2 separate regions of the Homo sapiens genome follow, and region 1 is linked to region 2. Evidence: fine-mapped expression QTL. A gene starts in region 2. The other region holds a variant in brackets. All regions are shown on one strand. Distances are from middle to middle. Region 1 overlaps ADSS1 (adenylosuccinate synthase 1). Region 2 holds the start of INF2 (inverted formin 2).

Region 1 (5,000 bases), 44 kb after region 2:
GCAGGTAGAGAGCGCCAGGGGGCCACCAGGCTCCCTTGGTGCCCCTAACTCTGGGCCCCCAGCCTGGTCTGAGCCTTTGGGTACAGGTCACTCAAGGCAGGTGTTCTGCACCATCCATCTTCATATCGTCTCTCTCACTCGCACCCTTGCATCACTGTGCTTCTGAGAGTTGGGCGCTTACCTTAATCTACTGTCCCTGACCTGGCAAACAGTGGAAAGGTGGCATGATGTGGCCCTGCAGCTGCTACACCTCTAGGCGCCATCATTCATGCCATGGCTCTGTGACAGCACCCCCTAGAGTTGTGCAGTGTGCAACATGGGTGACTGTCCATGGCAGCTCACAGCATGTGGCTCAGCCCATTGGCCATGCAGGGGGCTCCTTTCCTAGGAGCAGCAGGGCTGGGCTTCCTCTCCACCTGTAGGGGCAGCAGTGGGCATCTTAGGTAAATGCAGGACTCTGCAGCCCCTAGAGGACCCTGAGTGGTGGCTGAAGGATGGATGTGCCCATGGCCTTCCCAGAGCTCAGGTGCCTCAGCTCTGCTTTCAGAGGAGCAGGGCAGCCGAGGGGTGCCTGGCAGAGAGGCCTGCCGGCTGGACGTGGGGACCCTGGAGCTTGGCCTGAGGGGCTGTGGTGGGAGCCGTGCCTGAGCAGGGCTGTCCCGTGGCACACACTCGCCCTGGCTCTTCTGCCCATCACTTATCCCCATGAGGCAGGAAAGACAGAGTGAGTGCGGCTGCCCTGGGGGCTCGGCACTGGGGGGATGGTGACAGGACTCGGGGCTCAGGGCCGGGCTGCCTGGAACAAGCAGACCCTGAGGGGCCCCCTGCAGCAGGATCCATGGACCCATCTACTGGGCCAGCAGGGGCCAGGAAAGGAGAAGAGGGAGACCGGTGGGGCTGGAGGCACCAGTGCGTCTGTGCAAGAGGAGGAAGCCCTGTGAGAGGGCAGCAGCCTCCGGACTGCCCTGCACACCGTGCTGAGAGGCCTGGCGTCCACCTGCAGCCCAAGGCAGCTCCAAAAGAAGGTCCTGGTGCTTCTCCAGGAGGCGAGGCTGGCCCTGATGTTTGGTCCCTCCTCATCGGCCAGCCTCATGGTCAGCCTTGGCTGGTGGCTCCCATGGCAAGGCAGACCCTGGCCTGGACCTGAAGGCTCTGCCTTTGTGCAGAGCCCCAGCCTGACGGTACCAGTTTTCCTTTGTTCCCCTTTGTCCAGCCCTCCTTGGATGCCTTTGCTGTGGGAATCCCAGGCTGAAGCTGGAGGAAAGGCAGGAGGACTTCTTGTCCCCAGCCTCTCACCACGTGCCTGTGCAGCCTGACGTCCTGAGACCTCAACTGGTGATGGGGAGGACAGACTGGTGTCTCTCTGGGGCCATCGTCCTGGGCTCCCCAGAACTGGGAGCCCCTGCGGATCAGCAGGCCCCAGGCTCAGCGTCCTGAGCTGGCTCCTGCTCCCAGGGGTGGCCTGGCACTGGCCCTGCGGTCATTGGACACCCACTGGCCTACGACAAGCCGCGCCTGTTCCTAGGAGCCTGTGTTTGCCCCCAACAGAGCCAGGGTGTGCCTAGCAGGGCGTTCCTGGGCCTGTTGACGTGGGCACTGGGCACTCTGCCATGGTAGGCAGCACTTGGCCTGACTGCCAGGTCATCCCTCGACGCCTGCCCCCCCGCCCAGGCGGGGCTGTGTACAAGGGATAGGCTTCCCTTCTCTCAGTTTCCCTACCTGTCCTCAGAGACCTCACCCCTGACTGCCCCCAAAAGGCAGCAGATGCAGTCGTGGGCATGAAGGTACTCCATGACCCCAGCGGAGAGGAATTACCACATATGTGCCGAGGCAAGGACAGAGTAAGAGTGGGGGTCTCCAGGAGGGTGCTGTGACCCCCAAACCCAGAATCTGTTCGAGTCACGCCAGGGCCTGCCCCGTCCCGATGGACTGAAC[C/T]TGTGCGCCCAGGGCTGACTCAGCGTCTGCTGAGCAGCACAGGCTGAGAGCCCTGCCCATCCGCCCAGGCTGCAGAAGTACCCTGACCCTCCACCCCCACCCTGCCTTGGCGCCTGGCAGCATTAGCTCCCACAAGGCCTCCAGGTGCCCTCAGACCACCCTCCCTCCTGCCACCAGGCTTCCTGCATCTCTCCACCTCCCAGGATCCCCACCCAGTTCACCCAGCACCGCCCCGCCCAGAGCCACTGTCCTGAACTGGTTTCCTATAAGGACTGGGCCCAGCCAGGCAGGGCCAGGCAGAAGTCAGGGCGTGGAGGTGGGGACTCCTGCCCTGCGAAGGGGCTTCAGGGCTCTGAGTGCTGCCTAATCTGCCAGTGTGTGAAGTTACGTCCCAGGAGGGTGAGCCCCCTGCCTGGCATCTCTGGATCTGCCCCCCCTCTGTCCCCAGGGTTGCCCTGCCACGAGGCGCCGGGGCTGTTTCCGTGTAACTCTTGTCCAGATGCATCGTGAGGAGCTAGTGCAGAGGGAGGGGGCCGCCATCACGGAGGGTCCTGCTTGGGCAGGCGGGGAAAGGCTATGTGAGACACCCCACTGCCAGGCTTGTGAGGGTGGGAGGGGAGCTGAGACCCCTCTGCCGGGCAGAGAGCAGTGGGGTGTGGCTGGGAGAATCCCCCATGCGTAGACAAGTTGAGGGCTTTTCTGCCGGGAGGTGAGGCAGGAAGGTGGGGCTGGATCTGGGCTCTGGGGTCCTGGGGACAGAGTGGGCCCCAAAAGGGAAGTAGTGAAGGAGAGACCAGACCAGTCTGTGGGGCAGGGTATCCGTGTGTGGCCCCCCGCAACCCCACCGGGACCCTGCTTACCCTCCAGGTGGAGCTCAAGGAGAGAGGGCAACAGGAAGGGTCCCCCATGCCATCCAGTGGCTGGCCAGAAGTGGGGCTGGAGACCTGGCCTTCTCTCCTGGGGCAGAGACCTTCTGGGGCTCCCTCCAGGCTCTGTCACACTGGGCCTACAGGGGTCTCTTATGGTGGCATAAAGACCAAAAGGTGCTGTAGGGATATCCCTTGCCGTTGGTGGGGGCCTGGCTTCAGGGGCAATGAGCCATCATGGGCCATCAGAGATGCTGCCTCTTCCTCAGCTGTGAAGCGGGGCCTCCTGCCTGCACGTAGGGGAGCCCTATCAGCCGTGCCTTGGGACTGGAGTGTCCCTGTATCCATCATGCCACCAGCCCACCTGCCCTGCAGGAGCAGAGGGTGGGGGCAGCAGGGGACACCCACTGGACCTGTGCCCTGCTGAGCAGAGCCAAGCAAAAGGCAGGAGGGCTTTGGTTCTTGCCCCACCTGGAGAGGGTCCCTAGCTTATCCTCTAGCTTCCACTGGCACAAGAGGCCCTTGGGGAAGCGAAGGCAGTGGCATCCAGGGCGTGGCACAGTTTGCTTGTATCATGTGGCTGTCTCATGGCAGGAGGGGGATTGGAGCCTGCACATGCTAGTCCCAGGCCCTCTCCCCACCATCAGCAGGAATCCCCCCAGAGAGGGGAGCCTGTGGCTGGGTGTTTCCCAGAACAGGGCTGGCTCAGAATGGCTTTTTCTTTTTCATTCTTAGACGGGAGGTGCCTGCCCAAAGGGAAGGGTTTCTGCTAAAGTGGGTGAGGGCAGGTTTGGCCGTGGGGGTGCTGAATTCATGTTCTGTGGGAGGGTTAGGCCTCCTCATTCCTGCATGAGAGGAGCGAGCTCCAGAGCGGGGCCCGCAGCTGCAGAGACCTGCACCAAGCCACCTGGAGGTGTTGGCACCAGCCTGGGCCAGACCCTCCCCGACCCAGGCCCCTGACCAAACTGCTGCCCTCCTTCCAAGGTGCAGGATGCCCACATCCCAGTCCCGCACAGACGCATCAGAGCTGGCCACCAAACCAGACACCCCAAAATCCAACAGCAGTGCCCTGCAGGGACAGACGAAGCCCCATGTGGGTCAGTCCATGTCCGGGGGGTCCTCAGTACCCAAGTGCCTTCAGCTCAGCCGGGTTTCTGTTCCAGGGGGGCAACAACGCCGGCCACACGGTGGTGGTGGATGGGAAAGAGTACGACTTCCACCTGCTGCCCAGCGGCATCATCAACACCAAGGCCGTGTCCTTCATTGGTGAGTGCCCTGCCCCGACCTGTGTGTGAGCAGGAAAGGGGGTGTCAGCCAGCCCAGGAGCCCCACGCATGGGGGCACGGGGCACCAGAGCCTGGTGATGACTGCTCTAGCAGTAGGCTGGACCCCAGCCTCCACCTGCCCCACCAGGCACTGGTGCACAGAAACCTGCATAGCCCGGGCCTGGGCTGGGAACGCAGCTGAGAGGACACAGGGCTGATGGGAGGAGGGGCAGAGTCACATCCACCGCGCAGGAGCGGGAGTGCCTGATCCCTGATCCCTGATCCCTGATCCCTCACATGCACATACTTCCTGTGTGGGCATGGAGACCACACGCCCATGTGCCCGTGACTCCATGTGCATACCTGTGAGTGAGTATGTGCTTGCGACAGGCCTGGCTTCTCGCTGCGTGGCGACCAGGCTGTGTGGACAAGGCCGTGCCCTCCCCGGCCCTGCCGAGCCATGTGGCCGTCCTCTTGCCTGGGCTGCTGTGGCCACGTGGCAGGCCTGGTTCCAGCCCCTTCCCAGTCCGTGCTGCAGAGGGACCTCCTTCCACATCGCCTGCCCCCTCCTGGGTCCGGACACAGCTCCTCCCCTGCAGCCACCTGTGACCACTCAGTGCTCCAAGAGGCGAGCCACCTCTGTCCCCAGGGTTCCGTGGCTCTTTCCCTCCTTCTCTCGGTCAGAAGCCTGCTCTGTGCACCCTGGCCTCAGCTCTTAGCCCAAAACCCCCTTGCTCAGAGAAGCTTTTCCTGATCCCAGTGGCCAAGCCAGCCAGGCCCCTTCTTGTACTTTCCCTTCCAGCTGTTTCCAGACTTCAGCAAGGCCATCCTTGTGATGTATCTGACCCCTTCCCAGCCCGTCAGGAAGTGGGGGTCAGGCGCCTCAGGTGTGTGCCCAGCAGATGCATGGGCCTGGACCCATTCAATGTGAGCA
Region 2 (5,502 bases):
GGGTGTGTGTGGGAATGGATGGATGAATGGGTGAATGGGTACATAGGTGGGCAAGGTGGGTGGACATGGGTGAGCAGGCATGTTTTCACTTACTTCATTCTGTAACAATGTCAGAGATCATCTCAGGGCACCACAGTAGGATGCAAAATAAAATCTCAAAAGGGGAAAAAAGATAAAAAGCATTCTGGGTGCTGAACTGATGAAGGAAATGAACCCATGGCCAGGCTGCTGCTCAGGTGGACCCCAGGAAGCCCTTCTGGGCCTGCAAGTGGCCGCCTGCTGCATGCAGGGCTGTCCTGACTGCACGGCGGCGCCAACATCAGGCTGGGAGGATTTCTCTCAGAACGCCCACACCTGCCTGCCTGTTTCTAGCAGAACTCAAGCTGTCGGTGCCAAGGCCTGCTCTCCCCTCATCCCAATCTTCCAGCAAGAGGCAGAGGCAAGCTCTCCACAGGCCTACAGTGGCAGGGCCACTCTTGCACTCTGTGCCAGTGGCCAGGAACATGTGGCTCCGCCTGGGTGTGTCACAGTACCAGCCTGTACCTGCACGACCCTGTTCTCAGGCATCTGGGTACCTGCAGCTGGGGGCCGGCACTTGTGTACCCGGCTCCGAGGAAGGACCGACACCCAGGAGGGGAGGCTCCAGGCAGGCCATGGCTTCCAGGAAGCAGCTCCGGAAGCCGCAGGCAGTGGCTGCAGGTGGTGTGTTTCTGAGGCCAAATCGGTCCTCTCTTCAACCCCAGGGCCAGGAAGCAAGCTCAGAATAGGGCCAGGATGGAGTCTGGGAGCGCTGGAGGTACAGAGGGTTGAGGGTGAGCCACTGAAGGAGAAGAGGAGGGGGCCTCTGTATGTCTCAGAAAATCAGTGCTCAAGCCGGGTTGAACCCTGCTGCCCCGGGCATGGTGGGTTCAAGCCTGACGGAAAACCCCCTTTCAGTGTCCACATTTCCACCCTCCCAGACCTCTGACCTCGGCCTCCACTCCACACACACACACACACATACACACACACACACACAGACACACACTCTTAATCAGGGCCCAAAGCCCTCCTCTGCACTCCCTGCCGACCCCAGGGACTTCTCCAACCTCTCTCCAACTAAATCACATTCACCCCACCTTCTTCACCCTGCTCCGGCCTGTGCTGGCCTCTCTGGACCAGGTGTGCAGCTCGGAAGCACGACTGGGTGCAAGGGAGACAGCCCCAGGCAGGAGCGGCCCTGGGGGCGCTGGGCCTCCCTCCCCCATCAGGGCAGGAAAGGTGGACCCCTCGCCCACACCTGACCTCCTACTCCAGCCTCTGAGTAAGGCTCAGGACTCTGACTTTCCCCCAGGCAGGTGGACAGGGGAGGGGGCTGCAGGTCAAAGCTCACTCCCCACCAACCTCCTCACATTCCTCCATTCACTGGATCAACAAACACACCCACTGCCCAGCACCGCTGCCAGGCATCAGCTCCCAACGCAGATGAGTCAGCCCCGCCCGTGCCCTCCAGGGTGGGGTGGTACCAGGGCAGGCACCAATGTTCGGGTCCAGGAGTGCACCAGGAGACCCAAAGCCCAGCTTGAGGGAGGGCAGGAAGGCCTTCTGCTCTGGAAGGGGCCCTGGAGCCCGGTGTGGAGGGCCGGAGGCCGGCCTTCCAGGTGCATTCCAAGAATTGCAGAGTGCCTGTCTAGGAGCAGCGGCCGCCCAGGTTGGAGGGTGTCCAGTGAGCGCCTGCCTTGGCTGGCTCCTCAGGCACACCCGGGGCTGTGGCCTGCAGCTGCTCCTGCACTGGGGCTGAGCCAGCAAACTTCCGGGGCTGGGGCTGCTGGGCAGGGCAAGGTCCGCACAGGGAGCAGACAGACGCAGCCTGCAATTCGGCGCTTATCCCCACCGGAGCGGAGGCACACCAAAGCCAAAGGACACGCAGCTGGCCTCAAAGCAGAAGCTGCATCGGGGCTGGGAAGCCATTCAGGAGCCCTTTTCTCTCCCCTCGCCCTCACCCTGAGCCCTGGCCGCCACGGCCCACACAGCAGGCCCTCCGGAGAGAGATGTCAGGACTCCGAGTGGAGACACTTTATCCGCATGTTCTTGACCCTCATACAGCCCTTACGGGTACTTATTCTATTTTACAGATGGGGAAACTGAGGCTCCACAGAGTCATATCCGAGCCTGAGGCCGCACAGGGAGTGCTGGCGCCGGTTCTCAGGGCAGGGGTTGTGTCTGCTCTGTCACATGTCACACGGGGGCTCCCCCAGGCCTGCCTTCCTCTGCCCTCCCTCTAGCTGCCAGTGGCCCCCAAACCCCAGGCCTGGTGCGCTGCTTCCTGCAGCTCTGACTGAGGGTCAGACGTCAGAAGGGACTTCCAGAGCTGGGGTCTGGCTCTCATCCAACCAGGCTGGCTTTCAGAGCCGACTATGGGCACGCCCCATGCTGGTCAATGTCGGCGGTGGGGGGATGGGTGCCCCCCTCAATCTAGGAGACAGATGAGGCCGGACAGCAGAGGGGTGGCAGAGAAAACCCACCCCATTGCGACACCTCCGCGGCCCTCATGCAGCTGTCTCCACCAACCGGCGAAGTGCGGCTGCCCAAGACCGCCGAGACCCCATCAAGGGTGGAAGGGGGTCAGGCAGGGCTGCGGAGAGGAGGCCACATGGGTGGCCTGGTTGATGGGTAGGCTCTCTCTCCCCAAAGCCTGGGAAGAGCCATCTCTGCTGAGGGATCCCCGAACGCGGGGACTCCGGATCCGGCTGGCTGGAACGGGAGTCCCGGGCCGGGGCAGAGAGAGGTGAGCGGCGCCTGGGAGGCCAGTCCCACCGGAGGATAGGGGTGTAGGTGGACGGGAGGCGGTGGAGGGCAGGGACGGGGCGGACAGTGGGGGCTGAGGCGGGAGACGGCCCCGATCTGCGCGTCCCACCCCCATCTCCGCCCACCAGGAGCCAGGCCAGCAGGGACCGCGAGGGGGCGGCCAGGTTATTCACGGGAGTGGGGAGACCCCTTAAAGCGCCCTCAGGGACCGGCCACAGTGGGCGGGGCCACCCCCAGCCACCCACCTCCCCCCCCAGGCCCCGCCCCCGGCCCGCGCTCGCTCCCCACGTGGCCGCTGACGGGCGGGGCGGCACCTCCTCTTCCTCCCGCCCGCCCCGCCCGCCCCGCGCCCGCCAGGAGCCACCGTCCGAGCCTTGCGGAGCGCGGCAGTGGGCGCCGGCTGCCCGCAGCCCCTGACCCGGCCCCGGACGGAGCGCCGGCCGCACCACCGCCCTCTGGCCGTTGCCTCACCGGGTAAGTCCTTGGCCTCGGGGTCCGCTTGGAGCTTCAGGGGAAACTGAGTCCGGGAGGAGGCAGGGGCGTGCTTGGGTCCAGGAGCGAGGTTCCGGGCTGCGGCGTGTGTGCCCAGGTGGCGGCGGGCGGTCCGGCGGCGCAGGGTACAGTTCCCGGGCGGGGACCCCAGGGCGCCCCTGGCCCCCCCGGCTCCGCGCGCCCCGCTCGGGACTATGGTCCTCCGCGCCGAGGCACCGCCCGAGCGCGCACTGGCCGCAGAGTGGTGGGCCCAGGGTCGGCCGGGCCTACTCCCAGGGCAGGCGGGATTTCCGCGCCTCGCGGCTGCCACATCCTGACCATGAATCAGCCACAGTTGGGAAAATAAACTTCAACTTCGGGTCCGCCGCCCGGGTGGCACCCCGAGGTGCGCGCCGGCCTGCGGCCCCACCCTGACTGCTTGGCTTCCAGCTGCCCACGCGCAGGTGGGCGCACAGGGAGCCCTTCCCACCCCGCAACCGCTGGCAGGCTTAGGGGAATCAGCCTCCATCACAGCTCTCTGTTCCTTTTGGGTGGGGTAGGATCCAATCCCTGTACGCCCCCAGACCCACCCGTCAACCCTCTAACTGGGGAGTCGCCCCAGGAGTGACCATGACTAAGGAGGGGAAGGCGGGGTGACCAGCTGTGTCCCTGACCGTCCCCAATGCCCCCTGGGGAGCACAGGCGTGGGGGGTGGTCTGTCTGTCTGGGCCTTCTGGGGCTCAAGCTCCCCACCCAGGGCTCCCGCAGCTCAGCTGTGACCACAGCATTACTGCCCACTCCAGCTGGACACACCAGGAGGCAGAGAGGCAGAGACCCTGCCCAGGCAGGGAACCAGGAACCCAGGAACCGGGCCAGAGGTCAGGCACACCCAGAAGGCGCTGGACGTAGGAAATTCCCTTACTGCCAGCCCTGCCCCTCCGTCTGGCACTGGAATGGAGCAGGATACTCGCCCTCTTCCGGCCTCAGTTTCCACATCTGCACTCTGAAGGGTGGGACAGCAGCTCAGGCTGGGACCTGCTCCCTGCCGCCCTGCACTGGGAAGGTGGGGTCCCAGAGCAGTGCCTCAGACCCCGAGGGTGCCACCCAGCCAGGGGCTTTTGGGGTGTCGGTGCTCAGCCCCCAGTGCAGCAAATAGTAGCATTGGGTTCCAGGCCTGGGGTCTGAGACCTCACACTGCTCCCACCCCTACCAGGGCAGCAGCAATTTTCTGTTCTAAAAGCCAGGTTGGTGCAGTGGGCCCTGCCCAGGCCCTGCCCTCCCATCCCTGGACTGTCATGGGCCCTGCAGCCCGGCAAAGGGGATGTCGCTAGTGGGGACGGACCAAGTGGCCAGGTGCGACTGTAGCCTCCACAGCCAGGGCTCCTGAGTTAACCTTCAGGTGAGCGCCCACTTTGTGGAGGAGCTGACGGCTGTCAAGCGAATGACACACACCGCACATGTGGGGACGTGGAAGCTCCTACCTGAAATAGACTCTGCGCCTTCCATCAAAGTGCAGTTACTTCCTGGGTTGGAAAAGTTATGCGGTTCATGCAGGCTGCGGGAGGGGTGGGTGGTGACTGGAAAGTGATGCGGTGCTGCCTGTGGGTGTGGGGCAGGACGCAGCTGGCCCAGCTCTGGACGGGGACAGTGAAGTAAGCTCAAGCCCCTGGCTTTTTGCTGGTGCCTGGAGGTCAAATTTCCCTGTAGTCAGGAATGAGACCTGACTCCCTGCTGCCAGCCCCTCCCCTACCTCCATCTTGCAAACAGCAGGTGTCTGATAGGTGTGTGGTTCATGGCCCAGTGGACACATTACATTGGAGAAGGCACACCCACCTCTGTTTTCAGGATGGTGGACGGGAAGGCCGGGAGGTGGAGGCCACATAGGAGCCAGTCTCTGGAGGGTGGTCCCCAGGGGCCACAGCAGACCCAGGCCTAGTGGACACCTAAAGTCAAAGACTAAGTTCTACCAACGGTGGGAAGGAGAGAGGGCAGGGGCACGGGCTCCCCGTCGCTGGAGGGGTGAGCAGGGTCCAACCACCTGGCCCCCTGTTAGAGAGGCTTCCACTCCTGCCAGCCTCACCCTAGGAGGGAGAGTCCTGCCTGGTCTGCCTCTGAGCACCCAGACAGCCTGGGTCCTGAGCTGGGGTGAGGTCTGCTCACACAGCTGCCCCCCAGCCCAGTGCCGGTATACCCTGGCAACCACCAGGCCAGGAGAGCAGGGCAGACCGGTGGTGCCTGTCCTCT

Evidence for each region. PIP is the estimated chance that this variant, and not a neighbour inherited with it, causes the effect.
Region 1: its variant is the best candidate, but not a certain one, in a credible set for the expression of INF2 in whole blood (INTERVAL, PIP 0.66).

What each region holds. Positions count from the first base shown.
Region 1 is chr14:104,731,056-104,736,055 of GRCh38, forward strand. It overlaps ADSS1 (adenylosuccinate synthase 1), which reads left to right. Exons shown (of 13, transcript NM_152328.5): 2 at 3,965-4,067. It overlaps LOC124903396 (a long non-coding RNA gene), which reads right to left. Exons shown (of 3, transcript XR_007064365.1): 3 at 3,513-4,086. Among named protein-coding and RNA genes, the nearest start is that of ADSS1, 9.3 kb to the left of the region's middle. The variant C/T (reference allele first, on the strand shown) is at 1,936.
Region 2 is chr14:104,686,479-104,691,980 of GRCh38, forward strand. INF2 (inverted formin 2) reads left to right here and starts at 3,140. Exons shown (of 23, transcript NM_022489.4): 1 at 3,140-3,261. RefSeq lists enhancers at 1,134-2,121, 2,122-3,111 and silencers at 2,804-3,063, 3,164-3,253, 3,274-3,513, 3,604-3,653.